Linked DNA regions of Homo sapiens. The protein of the gene in region 1 purifies or fractionates together with the protein of each later gene. This does not show direct contact. Each region holds a gene or a part of one and is shown on either strand. Other genes may lie near its edges. The genes, in order: HADH, BPHL, PITPNA, MMAB, OSBPL11, RSU1 and OAS1.

Region 1 (3,500 bases):
TGAGCTCAGCTGCACCCTGAGCCCTGGTACCTTTTTCACTGTTTTCCCAGGGCCTCCTGGCTTCCCTGTGGGCCTCTGAGAAAGGTTTCTGGAACTCCCACCACCCCCACTACAGTCCCAGCCAGAGCAATTGCATGGCCGGCCCAGATTGATATCCTGGATCTCTGCTTTTGATTAAAAGGTTTACTGCTTTTAAAAATAATCATAATGTAAAAATCACTAGGCTAGGAGATCTTGAAAGTTCCTTAAGGTTCTAAAACTTGTGACTGACAGGTGATTAGAAATATGTGACAAGGCCGATATGTGGTAAGGACAGTTTTTAGTAGTCTGTCCTTACTGAGTGATGTCATGATGTACTTTTTGTAACCTTAAGAATGGTGTAAACAGTTTTCCTCAGTACTTGATTGACAAAGAATGCTTTTCTCTGCTGTAGAAATATCAGATTTGGGACAGGGTCCAGGCCTCTAAATTGATCTGCATTCTCCTGCCTGCTTTCCCTCCCTGGTTTCTGGAAAGGTAGCTCTCATGTCTGCTTCAAAGGCAAACAAGCCTTAATAGGACTGGATAAAAAGCAAGTGTAATTGTTTTCAATTACTTCATTCATAAATGCTCACTCCTGAGAGTGTCATTTTTTAAACAAAACATTTACACCAGCTCTTCCAGAGAGATGAAAGCACATTTGCTTCCTCAAAATCTGCTTTAAATATTAAAACTTTTCTCTATGGTTTATGGAAGCAATTGCCTCACTTTTGCTCCAAGATCAAACCAACAGTTCTGGTTTATCTATCAACAAATATGCCTAATTACACCTCAAAGAAAGCACAGAGCATTTTACCCTACCTTGAAAGGCAGTTGTATGTCTTTTTTTTTTTTTTAACAAAATGTAATGTTTTAGAATGTAGCATGTGAGAGATCCACCTTTTAATGGTGTTTTCCTCACTGTCCATTTGATGCATTCTCCAATGCACCAAGTATCAGATGGTAAGTTGAAAGCCCTCTTCTTGTCTGTGGTCCCTTTCTGCATAGGTGCATGCCCTTTAGCCCTCACCATCCCTGGCCGCCTGTGGGCTGAAGCTGGAAGAGCAGGACCTGGCCTCAGGACATGCTCTTAGCTTGCTCTGGGCATGGGCTTCAACAGCCTATCATTGCTGGTCCCTCTGCTTCTTTTTCCACCACCTTCTCAGAATCTGCTTCTGAAGTTGCTGGGTGTCCTGCCTGGGGTGGGTGCTGCTTCCCTACTGCACACTACAGTCACACCCTAGGCCTCTTACCATGTCCCCCCGCCCACCACCTGCTCCCTCCTCTCAGCCAACACAGAGGAGTGCTCAGAGCATGCCCACCGTGCCATCTCCGTTCATACAGTTCCACCTTGAAGCTTCAAGCATCTGGAGGCTCCTTCTCGTCTGCCACATCTGTTCATCACTTTTGATTCCTTCCTGTCATGCCTGTTCCACCTCTTCATCCCACCTTTTCCCCATCCCAGTCAGGCTGCCTTCATGAGGTTCCTTAGGTAGCAGAGTAATTCACGCTACTCATGTCTTTTCCTGACTGGTCCCCGCTACTGCACTTACTGAGAAAGTATCATATTGTCCAGGAAGTTGAGACACCGCCTACTGCATCTGCCCACACACCCCCTGCACAGCCTCGGCAGGAGCTCTGTGACTGTTTCTGAACTCATGCAAGGAGAAATTTTCTGTACCCCACTGTTGATACACCTGGGGTTCCAGGCACATGGTTTGGCCAATGCTGCCTTGAGTGGTGCAGGCTCTCTGGAAGGATGTGTGTGCTGTTGTAGGTCAGGCCTCCTGGATGACCGGGCCTCTGCCACTAACACTTCTTGCCAGTCCCCATGGGATCTCGTGGAGGCTCACGCCCTTTTGCTCTGCTGTTTGTCCACTCATTTTGGCTTCCATGTTGGGCCTTCTTTCCCAGTATCCCAGCTCCGTCCTCACTCTTCCTATTGCTCTTGTTCGTTCACACTGTGACTGAGGCCTGATGCATGCCCCAGTCACTGTCACTCCTGTGAGTCAGAGGGACAGAGGCTGGATAGGCTGTGTCTGACAGTGGACTGCTGCCCTTGCCAGGCACCCACTCCTAATGGCCAGTGTGGGCAGGATGGTGGGGCCAAATGGTCAGCTCTTCTCAGGAGGGCTCTGCTGGCAACAGGCCTGGGAGCACCATGAGCCTGCCCCCCAGTCACCATGTGACATCTTGCTCACATTGTCGCCCCTGCTCAAGACAGGCTCAGTGGTTCTCTGGTTTCCTGCCATCTACAAGCTCTGCCAGAGAGCCTTCCTTCTGGCCAACCTCTGCCCCTGCTGTTATCACCGCCAACTACTCCTGCCATTCCCACGTTGCCCCACCTGAGTGTCTGCAGAGCTCCCAGCTGGACATCATCTCTGTCATCACAACTCTTCTTGCTTTGGCTCTCCCTTGGGTCACTTGTCACTGTCTTCCCTGTGGCATGGCAGGTGTTTTCTTTCCCTTACTATACTCTCTTTTCTGGGGCACTCTGGCTCCTCCTCATCTTCATATGTCCCAAGGTGCTGTGTAGGGCGGGCACATAGGCAGCTGCTGATGAGTAAAAATGCTGTTTCTGAGTTGTTGCTAAGTGCCTCTGTTGTTCATGCTAAGAATGGTTGGCAGGTGGTGCTGCTGAGCCAGACAAAGAAGCAGATGTTGGGCAAGTCCCAGCCCCTCAGCTGTGCTGATCTGGAGTTCACTGAGGAAGCTTTCCTTTGCTGTCTTGTCTGGAGTTAGGGGCTCTTAACTGGAGGGAGGTAGGAGAGGGTGTCCAATGAACCTCCTAAAGTTGACGCAGAATTTGGGTTATATGTGCATTTTTTATGGAAAGGGTGTCTGATTGTCAGAAGTACTTGATTCTAAAGAAGTTTAAGAATTATTAGTTTAAAACATGATTCCACATCTAACTGTCACTTGGCACACCAATCTCTGTATTTTGTTTCTCTGTTTCTGAAAGTTTGCCTCTTTTGCTCTGCATTATTGAGAACACGATCTTTAGAGTTGGGCTGACTTTGTAGAGTTATTTAGATATTTTTCTATCATGTGCTGTATCTTCATATTATTTCTTGAAATAAAACAGTCCTCAAGTGAGTCTCTGAATATGGAATTACAGCGTTGCTTCTAGGGTTAATTGTCCTGTCCTTGAATATAGATTTCATTAAATGGCTTTAGCTGAGTTGCAACCATTATGCTGTCAGATTTCTGTCCCAGGGAGACTGCCAGTAACAAATGAACCAGTACATAAGCATGTTAGGTTGTGATGAGTAATTGTGGAGAAGAAGATAGTAAGGGGTGGCAAGAGTCTTGTCCTAGTGTCCTGGCCTTTTCTTTAGTGCAGGGAGTTGCTTTTTTTATATATGCAGGGAGGAGAAGAGGCTGTCAGAAGTATGACACCTGAGCAGAGGCCTGGAGGAAGTGAGAGACTGAGCTCCGAAGCTGTCTGAGGGCAGCACCTAGGCACAGGGAGCATATCCCAA
Region 2 (2,184 bases), on another chromosome or scaffold:
CAACCTCCGCCTACTGGGTTCAAGTGATTCTGCCTCAGCCTCCCGAGTAGCTGGGATTATAGGCGCGCATCACCACGCCGGCTAATTTTTGTGTTTTTGGTAGAGATGGAGTTTCACCACATTGACCAGGCTGGTCTCGAACTCCTGACCTCAAGTGATCCACCTGCCTCGGCCTCCCAAAATGCTGGGATTACAGGCGTGAGCCACCGTGCCCAGTCTAGTACCTTTTTCTTAGGTGGGGCTTTCTAGAAGAAGCAGAATGAAAAAGGAAAATATTTAGTTTCTGAATAAAAAGGGGCTATTGGCAACCAGGTTTGGATGGCGTCAGAAGGAATGCCTGAAGAAGTGATATGCCATGTTGCTGCCCAGTTTCACACTGGAAGAGATCCTGTGCAAAGATCCAGCGGCCTGCTTTGGGTTCCAGTAAACACAAAAGTACGTACTGGCACTCTGCGGATTACAGACTCACTGACAACTTCATGGATTCATAGATCAAGTTTTGTTACATTGATCCAAGGTGAAGGCACGCCACAGCAGGTTACTTGTGGCCTTGTTACTGTCTGTAACTCCCTGAGTTACAGATGAAAGTTCAGCTAAAGATGAAAAGGGCTCCAGGCGGGGCAGGAAAGGTAGCATCGTGAGGCCAGCATCTCACCTATGGCATTTTGACCTAAAAGAGCTGTATCAACAGAGGTAAAGTGACCCATACATTTACCTTGGGGTTAGACAGCTTCTAGTTCCTTGGACTATCTGGAACCATGTCTCTTTCTGAAGGTGCCACATGCAGTGAGGAACCTGCCCTGGCAGAGGAACTCGTGTTCATCCTCTGAGGCCCCTTCGTTTCCAACTGAGCCATGTGCTTAGCAGTTGGGGGTTTCCTACTAATTTTTCGGAGAATGTTATTGTTTGAAAAGTGCTCTCCACAGAGCATGTGATTAGATCTTTTTGTTACTTGGGTGAGAATCTAGAGCTCCTGTCTTGCCTTGACAGCTAATATTCATGCCCATCTATTGTGGTCCTGTTTCCAAAGAGGAACACACAACAGAGTTTCTGTGCAGTGAAACCTGTGTCAGACCTAAAGGAGGCAAGGGCTGCTGAGGAGCTTGAAATGACCCTTAAAAGATATCAAGGAGAAGAGTTGTCTTCATACTCTCTTCTATCTGTCTGTCCATCTGTCTATTCATCCATTCATCCATCCAGCATTCAGAGCAGGTCTCCCATATTTTAATGAAGGGAACCTCATTTTTATTTCCCCAAGATCTAGAGATTAGGAAGAGTGCAGACAGTGCTGAACGGCTAAAAAGAAACGATTCACAGCGAGGTTCTCCTTCCTTCCTTATGGGAAACCAACAAATCATAGCCAGATAGGCTGGACTGTCTACAGAGAAAGACTTCACATGTGGCAGGCTGGGGATTCCCTGCCTCCCAGTCCAGCTTAGTGCAGATTAGGGGATGCAATTTAGCCTATACGTGACCTTCTATGACCTCGCAGCATCCTTGGCAATTCGTTCTTTCCTGTTTCCTGAAAACAAAGGCCTTGAGTGTCCCTGCAAGCCCTGTTCCTTGTGTAGGCAACTGGGATCCTATCTCTGGGGTGGGTGCAACTCATCCTTCTTTTCTGAATAGTGTTAAAGTTGAATTTAGAATGTCGTGATTGTTAGTAATAGCATTACTAATGTTCCAAGGCCCTCGGAAAGGTCCCAACAATATGTCTTCCTTTCAAGTTGATTCTCTTGGTACCCCATTCCCACCCCCAATGTGGTGGCTGAGTTGGAAGAGGCCCAGCATCTTCCAAGCACAGCTCCCTGCCCCACAGTTCCTCCCTCGCACCTACTGAGGTTCTGAGCTGTCAGCCCCCCAGTATTGAAACTCAAAAAATTAGGGAACATGATAACGCATTCTGCCCTAATATTGTCCTTTTAATGTCTAATTATCATTGTAGACAAAGTGGCTTGAACTTAGGCTTTCATCCTAGAAGCTTTACCACTTTTACTGTTTCTATACTTTTGTAGCTAATAAGTCAAATGTAGAACAAAGAGAAGGCTGCATTTGTTCAGGAAACTGTAAATCTGTCCCATTTGATCACAATCCTGTTGAAAGGAAGAAGCCTTACGAGGACAGTGTGTTTGCTACAATGCTGAGCCGTGACAGCTGCAGCAGCGGCTCCTGGAGCACAGGGCTGCT
Region 3 (3,500 bases), on another chromosome or scaffold:
TGCTGAGTTTTAAAACTACAAAATATAACTTTGATGAAACATATATTTTTAGATAGACAAAAAAATAAAAAGGCAAGCCACATCAAGCGTAGTCAGCACACAAAGGTCCTGCACAGTTGCTGAAGAGACCACAACATGTACCACAATGAGGTGGACTTGCTTTCTCTCCCACTGCAGATGAGTTTTAAAATTCTAATTCCAAAGAGAGTTTCTTCTATTTGCAGTTATCCTGGAGGACAGTGATCACCTAAGCTTTTGGCATGATTCTCCATGGAATGGAGAAAGATTTTCTTTTCTTTTTCTTTTTTTCCTTGAGACGGAGTCTTGCTCTGTCGCCCAGGCTGGAGTGCAATGGCATGATCTCTGCTCACTGCAACCTCTGCCTCCTGGGTTCAAGCGATTCTCCTGCCTCAGCCTCCTGAGCAGCTGGGATTACAGGTGTCCGCCACCACGCCTGGCTAATTTTTTTTATTTTTAGTAGAGACAGGGTTTCACCATGTTGGCCAAGTTGGTCTCAGACTCCTGACCTCGTGATCTGCCCACCTTAGCCTCCCAAAGTGCTGGGATTACAGGTGTGAGCCACCGTGCCTGGCCGAGAAAGATTTTCAAAAGGGTCTGAGAGATTAAAAAATAACTCTCTAACACTGAGGGCTCTCAAAGTTTGGATCTGAACAAAGCAGATCCAGTAGATCCTCTGGAGAGTTCTTCTAGCTCCAAGAATTTGAGTTCTACCCGAAGGAATGAAAGGTGGACAGCAAATACTTCCACGAACCCCAACATACGTCATGCTGGCCTTTGTCAGGCAGTGGATGGCTGAAGCTCCAGGCTAAAACTCCAATGAAAGTCTCCATGTTTCCTCATTTGTTAACATTTTCCCTTTCTTTTTGTCAGGACTAGGGTGACCAAAAGCCTCAGGCTTCTCTTACACAGTCACAATCACCAGACCCCTGGACACTGAGGTCTACCCCTTCCTAAAGATCCTTAGCGAAAGAATCAGGGACTGTGCCCCAATGAAATCCTGCCACTTCCCTGCTAAATGTAGCTAAATGAATAACCAAAACATCTGTCTTCAAGAGGAACCAACTCAGTGCACCACTTACCAGTGAGTCAGCCCAGGAAAAGTGTCATTCTGGATGGTAAAAACAGTTCCCTGCGGGGTTCCAGAGGAAGAACTTCTGGACCCAATTTTCGCCCTAGACCAGCATGGTGAAGCAGACACCGTCCGTGCAGCATGGGCAGCATGGGCGCCCAAGCCTGGCTCTCACCTGAGGCCCTGCAGGAGAGCTGAGTGGGCTGTTGCAAAGCAATGCCTCTACTGGATACCCAAACTCCATGCCAACCCCACCTGGGGCAAGGAGGGAGAAGTGATGGCAGTTCTTATGAAACAGAGCTTCCTGCCTTATCATATTTTTAGCTCCAAGATGGCAGGAGGGCCCAAAATTGCATTTAGAGGGAGGAGTACAGGGGAGTGATTAAGAGCTGTGGTTCCAGGGCCAGAGAGTCCTGGGCTCTTACTCTGACCATATCACCTGCAAGACGGTGTGACCCAGAGCACCGCAGCATTGAGCTCTCAGAGCCTCCACTTCCTCATCTGAGGGTAGGGAGAGCAGCAGCGCCTCCTCATGGGGTATCGTGAAGACTGCAGTAGGTAAAGGCCCTCAGAATGGTAGACGGCACACAGTGAGTGCTTGAATGTTACTAACTGACAATCTCCTCTGAGTGGGCCTCTCAAGGAAGCATCAGCATCTCCAAATGAGGCATGAGAAGTGCTGGGTCTTTAGGCTCCTAAGGAACAGGGAACCCTCCTTCTGCGATCCACGCCAAGACCAAAAAAAGAAAAGCAAAAGCTCTCAACTCTGATAGCTCAAAATGACCGTAGACAGCCGCCAGCTGTCAGCTCCTGCGTGCGCTGTGGCTGTCCTCTGTGGGTAATGTGCATGGTATTCACAGGTCAGCCCAGCCTGCCTCCTCCCAGGGTCACCTCCAGCTCTGCAGCCCCGCACGCTCTTTCCCACCAGGCTCTGAAGCATCGCTGTAGCAGCTGTATTACCCACTTGGCATTCGGCACATACTGCCATTTTTGTCTCTGTGGGTATGCCAAGACTTCAACTCAACTGTCAATTCAAGAGCACAGGCTGTTTTCTTCCGTATAGTGCCCACGTACTGCCCAGGATACCGTCCCTGTAGCAGACACTGACGTGTTCCCAGAACTACAGGATGGTGCTCTCGGTGAAGCGCCCCAGCAAAACAGTCTCCTTAATCTTCGTTTGTTTATCTAATTGAGAGCCCCCAGAGCCCCCACTTACTTCATCCAGCTGTCTCTTCGTCTCTTCTTCCATCCTTCGAATGTCGTCCATGGTCAGGTCAACCCACTTATCGAGCCAACAGAACAGCTGCCTGTGGAAGTTTGTAAACAGACGCCTCTCTTGCTATAGAAAGGAGGGAACCACGTTAGAACGCAGAAGGCAAAGGCTGCTGCCACAGCCCTTCTCTCCATGCACTCCACACGAATACCCACACTAGACTGGGGACGGGCGGACAGGAGGAGGAGTAATGCCCGGCTGGTTATCTGGACCAGCCATGGGTCAATGACCTTTGCCTTCACGTGTCTAACAGGTATGGCTTCACATAGGAGGGAGCCCCCAAGAAAGAAGGATGCCTACCTCACACTAGGCCCTCTGCCCAAAGCACCAGCAAGACAGCAGCCCATGAACTCCTAGGCAAGCCAAGGGCCCCAAACCACTGCCACATTTCTTCCTGTCTCTGGTGTCTAATGCCAGATTAAAACTGGCCAGCAGCTATGAAATATGGCCCAAGTGAGGCTCAAACATGTCGGAGGATTAAAAGGCTCTAAAACTCCTTAGACCTGCCCAGCAGAGTAATTCAGGGCACCGGCCAACCTGGCTCCCAGCACCTCTTGCCTTTCAGCTGCAAGAAAAGAAAGACTGAGTTTTATCTGTAGGTCAGTCATAGCAAGTCCCTTCCTGTGGCCTTCTTTTGCCTCAGTTTCCTTCCCTGTCACATGTGGTGTCCCTGGAAGGACAGCATTAAACCGTAAGACATTTCAGTGCAAGGGAAGGTGGGCAGCTGGGAAGCCGCCAAACTGTGAGGTATGCTCATGTTGGCAACCCTGTCATGCAGGCCACATGGGCTGGGCCATCTTCTTCACTGGGCCAAACACCCCCCACCGCACACACACGCAGTCACTGGGAAGGCCTCAGCCGAGCTACTTACCTTATGGATGAAGTTCTCCACCACCCCCCACCGCACACACACGCAGTCACTGGGAAGGCCTCAGCCGAGCTACTCACCTTATGGATGAAGTTCTCCACCACCCCCCCACAACACACACACGCAGTCACTGGGAAGGCCTCAGCCGAGCTACTTACCTTATGGATGAAGTTCTCCACTTTGTTCTGCAGGCCCCACCACTTGAACTTGACGGTCACCAGTTTGTATGCACACATATATGGGCAGTCCTTCTGGTTTACAAGCTCTTG
Region 4 (3,500 bases), on another chromosome or scaffold:
GGACCTATCAGCTGCTCCGCCATGCCTGTTTTCGGGGCCTTTGGGTTGTTTCCAGTTTCTTGCTATTATGAGCACTGCTGATGGATGGCTTTGTACAAATGACAGTTTTTTCTTTTGAAGCCAAAGCTTGTTCTGTTACCTGGGATCTCTAAGGAGCTATCTGGGCCCGAGAGCCTTTCATAAAGAACAAAACCTTAGTGGTGTGGGACCGTGGAAGAGCTCAGGCTTGGCCCAGACAGACGTGGACTCCAATCTGGATTCTGCTATCAACCATGTGGGGGACCGTGACCATGGTGTCATTTCTCTGAGCCACAGCTTCCTGACTCCTGTAAAACAGAGGCCACCACCACCTCTCTCCCAGGGCTATCAACAAGGAGTAAATGAAATTATGAACATAAAGTGCCAGTCCATTGGATCAAAGTAGGGCTTGCTTTCTCTTCTCTGTAAAGCTGGCTGGCAGCCTGGTCTCTGAGTGGTGTAGATAGAGACTTTGCTCATTTTCTTCTAAAGATTCCTTGAAAAGGCTGTCAGTAGCTTTGGAGGAGGTGGTGGCTAGTCTGCTGACAACGTCCACCTGGGCTCCCCACAGCCATGCAGGCCTTTCAGGAGCCTTATGCACCCAGCAGCCAGCAGGGTCCTTTCATGTCTACCCCTGTCCCCAAGATGGCTGAGGCTGAGAACCCAGCAATAACTTCCTGCTGTTCTCAGAATACAGGGCTCACAAACAAGGTGCAATTGTGTTGTCTGATAGTCTATTTGGTCACATGTCACTGTCTCCACTTCACAACATGGTGCTCTGAGGACAGGGACTTGGTCTGTCCTGGTCCCCGTCTGGCACAGTGGAGGGGCCCAGACAAGGTCTGTTGATGTGTGGCTGGATGGCTCAGAGATGGCCCTGCTGTACCTGCCTCCTGCCCGCTGTGCAGAGGCCCCTCTCCCTCTCCCCATCTCCGTCCTCCTCTCCCTCTCCCTCCCCCCTCCCCCTTGTTCCTCTCCCTCTCCCTTGGGCCCTCTCCCTCTCTCCAGCCCTCTTACCGTCTCTCGGCCCGGCGGCACACGGCCCGGCAGAAATGCAGCGCCGAGCTGATCTTGCCTCCCGACTGAAAGGAGAAAGGGACATTGCCTGAGCAGGGTGGGAAAGGTGTGCCCACTGCGGACAGGAGCTCCTCTGAAGTCCAGCCCTGCCCCCCAAACCGGGCAGTGTTCTGCCTCCAGGAGCCCTGCCACGGCACACCCACCGGGCACGCTGCTCCAGAGTGGGCAGGGCTGGGAGGGACCGGTGAGGACCTGGAGGGACTTGGGGAACTGGAGGACAGCGTCTGTCACTGTGAAAAGAGGGATTTATTCAGAGCCCATGTGTGTCTGTCACTGAACCTGCCTGCAGCCGCCCCCGGTTAAGCCTGCCCAGTACCTACAGGCAGGATGAAGGCCGTGAGTGGTGGGAGCTGGCTGGTGTACTTGTCGATCCACTGCTCCAGCTCCAGGATGGGCCCCGCCTTGAACGTGGTATACTCTGAGGAGCCAAGGAGCAGAGGGAACTGCCATGAGGCCATCACCCACCAGACCATGGCGGGAACCACCCCCGCCGCCCTTCCACCTGGGTGTCCCGCAGACTGCTTCCACTGGCTCAGAAGGTACCTTCCCTCCCAGGAGCTACGAGCAAGGCTAACTGACCCACCCGTGGGTCCCTGGGGGCCTGGGATCCCAGATGGTGACCCTAGGAGAGTCCCCTGACCCTAGGGCCCTCTGAACACCCACAGGAGTTTGAGAATTACTTAAGTGAGCCTCCCGGGCCGAGGAGCATGGTGTCGCCAGGGCCGAGCCGACGTCCTGCAATGTGCACTGGATCTGGGGGGCGACAGAAAGTGACAGTCAAGATCTATGTGAGATGGGCTGGACAGAGACAATGTGCAGAGGCGCCACCTAATACGCCGGCAAAGCCTGTGCCAGCTAGCTCATGAAGGGCTGTGATATGGTTTGGCAATGTGTCCCCATCCAAATCTCATGTTAAATTGTGATCCCCAGAGTTGGAGGTGGGGCCTGGTGGGAGGTGATTGGATCATTGGGGTAGTTTTGAATGGTTTAGCCCCAGCCCCCTAGTGCTGTCTTGTGATAGAGTTCTCATGAGATGTGGTTGTTTGAAAGTGTGTAGCACCTCCCTCTTCACACTCTCTCTCTCCTATCAGCCATGTGAAGATGTACCTGCTTCCCCTTTGCCTTCCGCCATGACTGTAGGTTTCCTGAGGCCTCCCCAGAAGCAGAAGCCTGTACAGCCCACAAAACCATGTGCAGATTAAACTTCTTTTCTTTATAAATTATCCGGTCTCAGGTAGTTCTTTATAGCAGTGCGAGAACAGACTAATACAGGCTATCAGACCTTGAACTGGCTGACATTTGAAAGCAAACTCTGAACTTTCAGCACAACATCTTCGTTGGACACCCAGCCCTGCTGAGGGGGACCTGGTGTGGCTCTTTTGCAGTCTGAGGGAGGAAAAGGCTCCCATGGGGGCAGCAGCTGGGTTAAGCAGATGACACGCATCACACACCCAGGGACAGTCAAGAGGAACCGTCTGGGCTCTGTCCACGTCTCCTGTGCACCTAGGCCCTGTGAGGTTTTCTTCTTTTCTCAACATTTGACAGCTTTGGTTTTCTAACCTGTAACAGTTGGGCCAAGAGGTCAAATGTGACAGTGCTTTCTAAACTCTAAAGGACAAGGAGCTTGGAGAATGTAGTCAGCCGAGGCGTGTGGGGATTCTGGGAGCAGGAAGCCTGGCTGGGTGAGGCCTGTGCTCTGTCCAGGTGGGGAGTGGGTTTGCTTGGAACAGAAGTGGTCTGTTAAGGTCTGCTGCAGGACTCCAGGCCCCTGCATGACAAATGTCCAACAGCTCTCATGCATGTGAAGACCACAAGTACCACCTCTGACTTTGTGCCCAGCCAGGGTCCACTCAAGCTGGATGGTGGGCTACCAGGAGGGTGAAGGTCTGCGACTTCTGACCTCTCCTAAGATGGCCACTGTGACAGCATTCAAGAAGCAGGCCATGGTGTGTGAGAGCAGAGGCTGCCCATCCAGCACTGGGCTGGAACCTTCCCAGGGCTTCTGACCAGCAGACCTTGGGCAAGCTGCTTCCCTGCTTGGGGTCTCTGCACTTTCACAGTCAAAGCGGGAGTGATAATACTACCCACTTGGTTGGCCACGTGCAGCGTGTACCCCAAGGGCTGGGGAGAAATGGCACCAGTTTGGGAATCAGATTCCAGCTCTACTGATGCCTGGCTGTGGGGGCTGGGCAAGTCAGCCTTTCTGAGGCTCAGTTTGGCTCCCTATAAGCTGTGGACATTAACTTCCACCTCACGGGTGTCTGTGAGGGTGAAATGGGTGATATGAGGAAAGCAGTGGCATTGCTGCCCGGCCTCATCCACAGGCCCTGCGAGCGGCTACCAGGCCAGGCGGGGCTCCCAGGTGAACCAGACACTGTCCCCGCCCTCACAGTGCCAAGGCTGGG
Region 5 (3,500 bases), on another chromosome or scaffold:
CACATATAAGTTTTGAATTACTGACAAATATGAATAGAATCATTTATTTTAATTTTTAACAGAGGTAAAATAAAGCATACTTATCCAAAGGGATAACACATAATACTGGATATTAACCTAAAGGTGAAAAGAAAGAAGGAAAAAAGTAACAGTTTTATTTTTTAATATTTGCTATTTTCTTTAATGCCTTAGTTCTGGAGAAAGGCTAAAATCTCATCATATTGACATTAACACATTTTTAAAAAGTGTCTCTCAAGTGTAATATTTAATAAAACTAGGTACTGAAAAATGTTCTGAAATTTTTCAAGTCAATGTTGTTTTCAAGTATATTAAAATGCTCAGAAGAAAAAATTCTCCATGGTTATAATTCTGATCAATCTATAAATGTACTTTTTAAAAGAGAGTTCCAACAGAGGTGGATAATAGGTAAGTTCCTCAGACACAGGCATACAGTCTTTTTGAAGAAATAGAATGCCTTGTTACCACAACCTGGTTGATTTTTTTTTTTAAACACTGATTTCAGGCACAATGGCTGAATCCACTTCTGGGTCATCTTTCTCCTCCTCTTGGTTGGTTTACAAGAGTAGTGAATACTTCAGTTATGGACAGAAAGAAAGACACAAACTCTGAAACGGAGACTTCACTTTTCACTACAAAGAAATCAAAGTCACTGAGTTCTCATTGTTGTGTGTATCTGCTGCCCCTGTGCAAAAATAGGGGATTCAAACTTAACTTTAGGAGCAAGAACTGGATAAAAGATTCATCTACTGATTCAGGTAACAAGTTTTAAGATGGTATTGCTCACATCACATGAACAGGTTGGTAAAAGGTCCACTGTGTTTCTTTACCACTTTGGTCTTGCTGCAGTATTATGGTGCCCTAGTAGGTACATTCAGGTTTAGCTAGTTTCAGTCTGCGCAATCAGGAAGCAGGTCACTCAGTGCAATGACTCCATTCTGGGAGGATTTAGGGTAAACAGAGAAGAACCTCATTTGGTCGAGTTTTAGATAGTATGTGTCACTCTGCTGGTTGTGTTGTTGGAATTATTTTCCAAAGTGGTTTATGATAAACCCAGCCATCTCCCTGAAACAAATAAAAAGATAAAGAATCATCCCTCTAATATTATCAAAATCAGTAACCAAAACTAGAAGCAACACCTTCACTGAAATGGAATTCTATTTTCACATTCAAAAACAAGTTTTTGTGAAGGAATAAAGTCTTTGTGATTAAGACATCAAACGATGCCTGTGGTTTAGCTAGGATTTAGGTGAGAAGACATGGTATGGGAGGATCTAGTTTGTGACCCATGAACATTTAATTTTGCAAGAACCATTTGTAGCAATTTTGCCAATTTCGCCAAGATGCTACAGATTGAGCCTCACTCACAGAGTTATGGGCAGCAGGTGGAGTACAGAGAAATGATCGGGAAGGTACTAACTGTTCTCCCTGTCTCCACTGGCACCCCAGAACTCATTTTTTTTCTTTCCTTTTTTTTTTCCCCCAAGACGGAGTCTTGCTCTGTCAGCCAGGCTGGAGTGCAGTGGCACAATCTTGGCTCACTGCAACCTCCGCCTCCCTGGTTTAAGCAATTCTCCTGTCTCAGCCTCCCAAGTAGCTGGGATTACAGGCACGTGCCATACCCGGCTAATTTTTGTATTTTTAGTAGAGATGGGGGTTTCACCATGTTGGCCAGGCTGGTCTGAAACTCCTGACCTCATGATCCGCCCGCCTCGGCCTCCCAAAGTGCTGGGATTACAGACGTGAGCCACCGCGCCAGGCCCCCCAGCTCATTTTTCTTTTTTTTTTTTTTGGAGACAGAGTTTCACTCTTGTTGCCCAGGCTGGAGTGCAATGGCGCAATCTTGGCTCACTGCAACCTCCGCCTCCTGGGTTCAAGCAATTCTCCTGTCTCAGCCTCCCGAGTAGCTGGGATTACAGGCATGTACCACCACACCTGGCTAATGTTGTATTTTTAGTAGAGACTGGGTTTCTCCATGTTGGTCAGGCTGGTCTCGAACTCCTGACCTCAGGTGATCCGCCTGCCTCGGCCTCGCAAAGTACTGGGATTACAGGCATGAGCCACCGAGCCCGGCCACCCCCTAGCTCATTTTTAATGATATATAGATGTTCTCACTTAGAAACTCTTCTTTCTTAGAATCTGTTCTTGGTATATCTGCCTTTTTTTTGAGACAGAGTCTTGCTATAGGTTACCCAGGCTGGTCTCAAAAACAGTTGGTATTTATATACAGCCATACTACTTTTAAAAATAAAGATGTATAAGTGATAGCAATTCAACAAAGCCTAGTAAGCTAAAGTTCTCAGCCAAGTAGATACATTTTTATCTTGAACACATGTACAGCATACCTCTTTAATAAAATATTTGGTTTTCCAAGGTGTGCCTGTTTCAGTACGATGCCTTTCTTCAGTCCTCTGACGTTCTTCCAGGGTATGCTTATGCTCTGTGGCCTTATCAATTTCAGATTCTCTCAGCGAGTCTGTCACATTTTTCCACAATCGCCTGAAATCCAAAAACCACACATTTTACAAGCATTCTTTAAAAGAGATAATTAAATAGAATCAATACCCTCAAAATTACAATAATTTTATAAAATAACGTTTCCTAAATCACATCTACAATGTCATGCTTATGAATTCCAAGAATAACGATACTGTGCTGCTGATGGTTATGTCCAGGATGCTGCTCCTTCTGCTTCTTTTTAAATTAAAAATAATTTGTATTTTTCCAGGTTATAAAAGCAGGATTTTTTGTTTTTAGAAAACTTAGAAATTAACGAGTAAAAAGAGAAGTAAATTTTCAAAGTTGAAATGTAAGCAAGACTAATTGTGCTTCTGGACATGATGAAATAATGGGGAACACATTTATTTTCCTGCCTTCATCAACCAGGAAACCAGGCAACATATAATACAATAGTGGTTTTCAGATACTGAGCAAAAGGCAGTGCAGGGCAGTGATCCTTGAGAAAGGAAACAAATGAGGGGAGTCCTATGAGTGCTCTAACTCGCTGTCCAGAGTGTTTCTAGGCCACGCACAGGGAGAGGGAAGCTTAACAAATCTCAAGCAAAAAAAAAAAAAAACAAAAAAAAACTGCCACAACACTTCTTTAGGGAAAGAACTGTTTGTTGAACAAATGGTGCTGGGACAACTGGATATACATGTGAAAAAAATGTAGTAAGTTAAACATAAAACTACCATAAACCCAGCAATTCCACTCCTGGGTATTTACCCAAGAAAAATGAAAATAAATGTCCATACAAAGACTTGTAGGAGAATGTTCACAGCAGTATTATGGATAGGCAAAATGTGATATATCCATACAGTGCAATACTATTCAGCAATAAAAAGCAATGAACCACTGATACATGCAATTAATACTTCATGGATGAACCTCAAAAACGTTATACTAAGGAAATAAGCCAGGCATAAGAGATCACACATTGTATGATTTATATGAAATATCCAGAAAAGGCAAATTTATAGAG
Region 6 (3,500 bases), on another chromosome or scaffold:
ATCTGTGCTGGCTGCTCACCCATGATGGATAGCGTGGGGCTGGCCACCACACATCAATGCCACATTAATAAGTACCGCTGATTAAATGCTGACAAAGTGCCCTATAATTACGGTGGATGGCATTCATTGCGCAGCGAAGCTGGCTCCGTGGCTGAGAGGATTTAACTGAACAGCAGAAGGTAATTAATCGATAATTTATGAGTAATTCTGATTAAACCAAATTAAAAGCCACCCTAAAATAAATACAGCTCAAACTTAACTCCTTTTATTGATATAACTGTGTCTCCAAGAGAGCCTGGTGGGTGTCTCAGGTCCTCTGCAGCAAGGGCATACCCGGCTCCACAGCCCGCAGTTGCTGTGAATGAGGGTTGGCACAGAGCCTGACGTCCCTGTACCAGGTGGCCCAGCTCCAGCATCCACACAAGGAATATGCACACTCTCTGGATGCTGGCATCTTGGGCTGTTTAGCATATACTGGCGTCCGGCATTTTTTTTTTTTTCCTGAGTGTCTCACTCTGTCACTCTGCTCCCCAGGCTGGAGGGCAGTGTATGATCATAGCTCACTGCAGCCTCAAACTCCTGGGCTCAAGCGATCTCATGGCTCAGCCTCCTGAGTAGCTGGACTACAGATATATGCCACCATGCCTAGCTAATTAAAAAAAATATATATATCATATATAATATCTATTATATGATATATATGATAGATAATATGATATATATGATATATATCATATATTATCTATATCATATATTATCTGTATATTATATGTATCATAGATAATATATGATACATATAGATAATATATCATATATATCATATAAAATATACTATATTATCTATTATATATCATATATATATATATTTTTTTTTTTTTGAGATGGAGTCCTATTGTGTTGCCCAGGCTGGAGTGCAGTGGTGTGATCTTGGCTCACTGCAACCTCTGCCTCCCAGGTTCAAGCAATTCTCCTGCCTCAGCCTCCTGAGTAACTGGGCTTACAGGCATGCACCACCATGCCCAGCTAATTTCATATTTTTAGTAGCAATGGGGTTTCACCATGTTGGCCAGGCTGGTCTTGAACTCTTGACTTCCAGTGATCCACCCACCTTGGCCTCCCAAAGTGCTGAGATTCAGGCGTGAGCCACCATGCCCCAACAAAAAAATTATTTTAATAGACATGGGGTCTCACTAGGTTGCCCAGGCTGGTGTTACACTCCTGGCCCCAAGCAATCCTCCTGCCTTGGCCTCCCAAAGTGGGATTACAGGGATGAGCCACTGTGCCTGGCGTCCAATACTAGTGTTCTTGATGACATCTCCACCATGGCTGACAGGCAGAGGGGAAGGGCTGGCAGATGGAACTGCCCAGTTGATTTTGTGATCCAGGAAAGCTGGACACTATGGTTTTGAAAGGCCATACTGTATTCTAACTATTCCAGTCTTCCAAGTGTTGCCTTGGAGGCGGTACAAGCAGGTTCCATCGGCGGTCACTCTCACGGAGTGTAGAACACAGGGTTCAGAGCTGGCCAGAGACAGACCTACGAGCCGGAGCGTGCACATCCAGCCAGGTGCTGGGATTGCACTCCAGGAAAAGGGGAGGCCATTCTTTTGCATCAAGAAGTTTCCATATGTCCTAGACAGAGAACATAAGAGCCTGCAAATTGGCTTTCCACATCTCTAGGAATTAGTTTGGAGGCCTTTTTGCTTGTGTAATGGAGACAGTAGCCCTGTCCTGACCAGCCCGGCTGTGCCTCCTCTGAAGCCACAGAAGAAGAAACAACTCCTTAAGAGAATCTGAACTTCGGGAGGGTAAGGCAGGCAGATCACGAGGTCAAGAGATGGAGACCATCCTGGCCAACATGGTGAAACCCCATCTCTACTAAAAAAAAGAAAAAATTAGCTGCGCATAGTGGTGCATGCCTGTAGTCCCAGCTACTCAGGAGGCTGAGGCAGCAGAATTACTTGAACCTGGGAGGCAGAGGGTGCAGTGAGCTAAGATCACACCACTGCACTCCAGCCTGGCAACAGAGTGAGACTCTGTCTCAGAAAAAAAAAAATCTGCTCCATGAAAGCGCATTTTTCAACCTATAGGGGCTCCCCCAACCTACACTTTTAAAAGGGTCACGGGTCCCCCTGAAGACGAGGCCATGGGCACCTGGGGGTCCTGGGTCCTGTGTCCCAGGTGGGAGACCACTGGTTTAGATAGGGAGTAAAGTTCAGCGGGTCCAACCTTGTCTCTGTTGCTGCCCCCAATTTCCAAAGATACCTGTGTTCAAGTCCTGAAACCTGGGAGTATGTTACCTTACATGACAAAAGGGGCTCTGCAGGTGTCGAAGTTAAGGACCACCCTGCATTAGCCATGTGGACTCAACCCGTGTTCCTCCTCCTCGGCATCTCTCCCAGACACAACAGATAGGCAGAGGAAATGCTCAAAGTAGATCCCTCCATTCTATTCCTCATCCTCCAAGCTCCGAAACATGCGTACTCCTCTAACAGCACCTGCCCTTGTCCTCAGATGTTGATCTACTCAGGGCCACTGACTCAATGCTCAAGGGCTTAGCACTGCAGAGTAATAAACCCTGGAGGCATCAGGTCTCCAAGCTCCCCTCACCTGGCAGGAAGCAAGGGTCTGACTCTGTGTCTTCACACAGGCACCTACGGCCTAGGTAGCTTCAGCTACACACACAGCTTCCTTCCAGCCTCAGAGATCTTTCCTCTGTTTCCCAAACCCCTTATCCGCACAGAGCAAAAAAATACGTATGTACATTTTTATTCAAAGATAGTTTCAAACTTTAAGGATTATTATTATTATTTTTTCAGATGGAGTCTTGCTCTGTCACCCAGGCTGGAGTGCAGTGGCAGTATCTCAGTTCACTGCAGCTTCTGCCTCCCGAGTTCAAGTGATTCTCGTGCCTCAGTCTCCCAAGTAGCTGGAATTACAAGTGTGTACCACCATGCCTGCCTAATTTTTGTATTTTTAGTAGAGAGGGGGTTTCGCCACGTTGGACATGCTGGTCTCAAACTCCTGACCTCAAACGATCCACCCACCTTGGAAAGGCTGGGATTACAGGCGTGAGCCACGCACCTGGCCTCCAAACTGTAAGGATTCTAAAAGTTGACAGAAAGATGACTCCACTGTTCATGCCCATGGAAACCTAGCAATACCCGAGTGTAAGGAAAGAGTCTTGGCAATGATAAGAGGTCAGCAGAGGGAGAGGAGCAGTAGGAATTGAGAGGAATTGACAAGGCCCTGCTTCGAGTCAAGTGTTGAATGCGGGAAGGGCTGAGGTGGGTGTTCAGCTTGGCCCTGACGATGGGGATCCAGGCAAGCGATTTCAGAAGGGGTTGCAAAAGCTGCAGGGCTCTTCTCCTTTTTCGGAGCGAACTGGAATGTTCCACTGTTTCAGTCTCTGCCTTTTTATATTCAGATCCCACTGTGTGTGTCTGAACATCCTGGGGCTGCAGAACAAGTCACTACAAAGGGCCAGGTGGGAGCCAGTG
Region 7 (4,079 bases), on another chromosome or scaffold:
TCCGTGTCCCTCTGTGAGTTCACTGTGGTGTTTTGAGGTGCCTTCATATACAGCTGGGAAATTCATAGTTTTGACTGATTGACTGATTGATTGAGACAGGGTCTTGCTCTTGCTCTGTGCCTAGGATGGAGTGCAGTGGTACATTCGTGGCTCACTGACACCTCGAATCCTTGGCTGGCCTCATGTGATCGTTCAGTCTCAGCGTCCTGAATAACTGCGACCACAGGCATGTACCACCACACTTGGCTAATGTTTTAAAATTTTTAGTAGAGATGAGGTTTCACTTTGCTGCCCAGGCTGGTCTTGAACTCCTGGGCTCAAGCGACCCTCCTGCCTCAGCCTCCAAAAGTGTTGGAATTACAAGCATGAGCCACCACACTTGGCTGGAAGTTCCTATTTTTGAACACCTATTACTCATCAGAGCTGAATGTAGATGATCATTTATCACTTAAAATAATGATATGATACAGGTAGTGTGGTTTTACCAATTCTCCTGATGTGGCAAGGGAGCCTCTGAGAGGTTACACTTCCTGTCCAAATGTTCCTGCAAATTATAAATATCTATCTCCCAACGTGCTGCATACGTTTGATGAGATCTCATGTTGGGACAAAGATGAGAGTAACATGAACTTTAAGCCACATCTTTGCTGCCTGATTTTAGAAAGATAAAATTCACACATTTTGCCTTAAACAGAACCAGTAAGCCTTGCAGATGTTCTGTAAGAAATGTCTTTGTCCCCACATTATGCCAATTTGCTGTTTAATGTCTCTCCTGTGATAGATCATGACCGTATTCATTCTTGCCCCGGGACAGATCCTAAGATCTCCTCCCACCCTGCTTTAGAGAGATGCCCTGTTGGGGCAAAAAGCTCTCAAACTGTGGGAGATTTCTGCTCAGAAATGGGAAGAGGGAGAAAAAGAAGCTGGGAGCTCTCACCCAGGGCATCAAAGGCAGGCAGCACATCGAACTCCACCCCCTCCCCGAGCTGGAGCGAACTCAGTACGAAGCTGAGCGCACGGGGGTTGCCCCAGCGTGGAGCCTGGACCTCAAACTTCACGGAAAATGCTCTCTCTCTTTGACAGGCTTCCAGCTGTCTCCTAATTTCCTGGATGAACTCTCCCCGGCGATTTAACTGATCCTGAAAAGTGGTGAGAGGACTGAGGAAGACAACCAGGTCAGCGTCAGATCGGCCTCTGAGGGTGGTGCCCTTGCCTGAGGAGCCACCCTGAAAAAGACGACAAAAATAATAATTGATGCTTAGTGAGGCAAACCTCCCTAAATAAAATGACAGGAGCAATCACTAACATTATGGAGCACTAGCCACTGTTCTGAAGGCATTGCATGTCTTAAACTCCTATAATGCTCACAATGATGCTATGATTTGGATGCCATTATCATTAGTTCCCATTTTACAGATGGGAAAATGGATGCTCAGTGAGATAATATATCAGCCCCATCACCCAGCTAGTAGGTGGCAAATACAATTCAAACCTGGGGGCCTTCTTCCAGGATCTGTGTTCTTTTCCCATTGTCCTTTACGATGCCCAGGACTAGCTTATGCTGGGTGGTTCACACTTACTATTTTACTTAATCTACACGGCCCTATGAGGTATTGAGGGAAAGTAGAGGAAAAATCAGTTAGGTAAATGGTCAAGGCTGGGCCCTGGAGGAGCGGCCTGCCTGAAACTGGCGCAGGGAGTGGGACTTACCTAAAACAAATCCACAGTTATACATACAAGAGAAGCAGCGCTTTATGCTTGCCTAGAGATATACCCACAGCTGCATAAGGTAAGGGAAGTTGCACAGCTTTACTGATAAAAAGTTTCTCAAACAGTTACAGGGAGGAGAGTGGTTTCTTATAAAAGTTTTTTGCATTCAGCTGCAATCTGGCAATCCACTCAGACTTCCCTCTCCACAGTGGAGACAGCTTTCTTCTTTTGCTTACTGAACTTTTGCTCCAAGCTCACGTTTGTGTCCATGTTCCTTAATTTTCTTGGATGCAGGACAAAGAACCTTGGGTACTAATTCAGTGAGAAGCTGCTACATTAAGGTGCACTGGCAAGACTGCAACAGTATTGGGGATTATGGCTGAGGAAATTGGAACACAGAGTAGTTAAGTGACTTGCTCAAGGTCTTGCAGCCAGCAGGTGCTATTTGCTTTCAAAACATATGATTCTTCACTGCAGAAATGGTGAGCCCCTAGCCTGGCCACGAATTAGCAAACTGTTTACCAGAGCTGGGATTCAGTTCCCTATTTCTGAAATGGGCATCGCCCAGGACAGTGGTTCATAAACTTCAGCGGGAAGTAGGGGGGAGGGTCACTTGTTAATAATAGGGATGTAGGATTTCACCCCAGAATCTATTTTAACATGCTGTGTGGATAAATAAGAAACCACCATCCCAGAAGATCTCAGCTCTCTGTACTCACATTTGCACCCTGGGTTCTAGGTTTTTGCTTCTCTCTCTCTCTCTCTCTCATTCTCAATCTCAACTCTTGCACATTCAGCCACCCCTCCCCTGGCCAGGCAGGCCTGGACTCACCTTTACCACCTTGGACACACACACAGGGTAGGAGCTACCTCGGAAGCACCTTTCCTTCAGGAACCCACAGATGATGTCAATGGCATGGTTGATTTGCATGCGGAAACACGTGTCTGGCAAGAGATAGTCTTCAATGAACTTGTCCAGAGATTTGGCTGGGGTATTTCTGAGATCCATCATTGACAGGAGAGAGAGTGGCAACAGAACTGCCTCCCAGACCTGTTTGCTTTTATCTCTTCTGCTGACTGAGCTTGGACTGCTGTTGGTTTCGTTTCCTCAGAAGGGAGGAGCTGTCTTTGCACTTTCCTTTTGCAAATCAGACACTCCCCTGATCCCAGTGCTGAATTTCATCTGCTCACTCTTCTGCTTCCTGAAACTTACCCTTTGTCCTTTAGCCAGCAACAAGCAGCCCAGCCTTTCTCTGAACTCTGCTCTGGAAATGCATTTTAACCTCCAGCCAACATAAATCTTATTTAACAGATTTTGTGTTTCCTTCTTTATCTTTTTTTTGTTGTTGATGAAATCCTTTCACAGTTGTCTGTGGTATTTTCCAGCAATACATGCCCACTGCAAAAAGAAAAAAAGTCAGAAAAACCAGGAAGTGGAAAGATCATCTATGATTCTAACACTACAAAATTGCCTCTATAAACGTTTTGATATAGAGCTTTCCAGATTTTTTTCAAATGTTAACACACACACAAACACAGGTCTCTTTTCTTTTTGTTAAGAATGGTATTATACTATGCTTTTTTCCCTTTCAATTAGTAGATTTTTATTTTATTTTATTATTTTTTGGAGACAGGATCTTGCTTTGTTATCCAGGCTGGAGTGCAGGGGCATGATCATGACTCGTGCAACCTCAACTTCCTGGGTTCAAGGGATCCTCCTGCCCCAGCCTCCTGAATACCTGGGACTACAGGCATGCGTTACTGCACCCAGCTCATTTTTTATTTTTTGTAGAGACAAGGTCTTGCTATGTTGCCCAGGTTGGATTTTATTTCTCACAGCAGTTTTAGGCTTACAGAAATATTGAGCTGAATGTGCAGAGAGTTCCATAAGCTCTCTCTCCTGCCAATAAGTTCCTCTATTATTAACAGTACTGTGATACATTTGTTACAATTGATGAATTGATATTAATACATCATAATTAACAAAAGTCCATTTACATTAAGGTTTACATTAAGGTTCACTCTTGTGTCCTACAGTTCTATGGATTTTGCCAAACATAACATGTCATGTATCCACCATTACAGCACCATGCAGAATAGTTTTGAGATAGGAGGTGGGGCTTGACTCAGGGCCAGATTGAAGACTGGCTGGCATGAGCACCAGCACCATGAACAGTTTACTCATTCCCTGGCAATGACCCAGTTACCACCCTTCTTCTAGAAATTTCTGAATAACCTGCCCTTAATTTGCACGTATTTAAAAGTGGGTATGAATGTGACTATAGAAGTGCCCTGAGCTGCTGCTCTCCAGGCACTGCCTATGGGGTGGCCCTGCTCTGCAGGGACAGTCACAGAACTGTAACCCTGCT

The links.
Region 2: the proteins of HADH (region 1) and BPHL fractionate together in Homo sapiens (co-fractionation; one large-scale study listed by BioGRID). This does not show direct contact.
Region 3: the proteins of HADH (region 1) and PITPNA fractionate together in Homo sapiens (co-fractionation; one large-scale study listed by BioGRID). This does not show direct contact.
Region 4: the proteins of HADH (region 1) and MMAB fractionate together in Homo sapiens (co-fractionation; one large-scale study listed by BioGRID). This does not show direct contact.
Region 5: the proteins of HADH (region 1) and OSBPL11 purify together in Homo sapiens (co-immunoprecipitation; one large-scale study listed by IntAct). This does not show direct contact.
Region 6: the proteins of HADH (region 1) and RSU1 fractionate together in Homo sapiens (co-fractionation; one large-scale study listed by BioGRID). This does not show direct contact.
Region 7: the proteins of HADH (region 1) and OAS1 purify together in Homo sapiens (co-immunoprecipitation; one large-scale study listed by IntAct). This does not show direct contact.

The regions. Positions count from the first base shown.
Region 1 is NC_000004.12:108,027,889-108,031,388, forward strand, and holds part of HADH (hydroxyacyl-coenzyme A dehydrogenase, mitochondrial isoform 2 precursor), read left to right. Parts: intron 1-50; exon of another isoform or gene 51-181; intron 182-3,500. UniProt on the Homo sapiens protein: Mitochondrial fatty acid beta-oxidation enzyme that catalyzes the third step of the beta-oxidation cycle for medium and short-chain 3-hydroxy fatty acyl-CoAs (C4 to C10).
Region 2 is NC_000006.12:3,149,711-3,151,894, forward strand, and holds part of BPHL (serine hydrolase BPHL isoform 1 precursor), read left to right. Parts: intron 1-312; coding exon of another isoform or gene 313-349; exon of another isoform or gene 350-434; intron 435-2,184. UniProt on the Homo sapiens protein: Specific alpha-amino acid ester serine hydrolase that prefers small, hydrophobic, and aromatic side chains and does not have a stringent requirement for the leaving group other than preferring a primary alcohol.
Region 3 is NC_000017.11:1,531,793-1,535,292, forward strand, and holds part of PITPNA (phosphatidylinositol transfer protein alpha isoform), read right to left. Parts: coding exon 3,390-3,500; intron 2,430-3,389; coding exon 2,307-2,429; intron 1-2,306. UniProt on the Homo sapiens protein: Catalyzes the transfer of phosphatidylinositol (PI) and phosphatidylcholine (PC) between membranes. Shows a preference for PI and PC containing shorter saturated or monosaturated acyl chains at the sn-1 and sn-2 positions.
Region 4 is NC_000012.12:109,560,005-109,563,504, forward strand, and holds part of MMAB (corrinoid adenosyltransferase MMAB precursor), read right to left. Parts: intron 1,849-3,500; coding exon 1,776-1,848; intron 1,514-1,775; coding exon 1,416-1,513; intron 1,326-1,415; coding exon of another isoform or gene 1,239-1,325; intron 1,101-1,238; coding exon 1,036-1,100; intron 1-1,035. UniProt on the Homo sapiens protein: Converts cob(I)alamin to adenosylcobalamin (adenosylcob(III)alamin), a coenzyme for methylmalonyl-CoA mutase, therefore participates in the final step of the vitamin B12 conversion.
Region 5 is NC_000003.12:125,529,498-125,532,997, forward strand, and holds part of OSBPL11 (oxysterol-binding protein-related protein 11), read right to left. Parts: intron 2,518-3,500; coding exon 2,364-2,517; intron 1,084-2,363; coding exon 1,018-1,083; 3' UTR 1-1,017. UniProt on the Homo sapiens protein: Plays a role in regulating ADIPOQ and FABP4 levels in differentiating adipocytes and is also involved in regulation of adipocyte triglyceride storage. Weakly binds 25-hydroxycholesterol. Interacts with OSBPL9 to function as lipid transfer proteins.
Region 6 is NC_000010.11:16,593,925-16,597,424, forward strand, and holds part of RSU1 (ras suppressor protein 1), read right to left. Parts: intron 1-3,500. UniProt on the Homo sapiens protein: Potentially plays a role in the Ras signal transduction pathway. Capable of suppressing v-Ras transformation in vitro.
Region 7 is NC_000012.12:112,905,683-112,909,761, reverse strand, and holds the start of OAS1 (2'-5'-oligoadenylate synthase 1), read right to left. Parts: upstream 2,801-4,079; 5' UTR 2,723-2,800; coding exon 2,543-2,722; intron 1,227-2,542; coding exon 938-1,226; intron 1-937.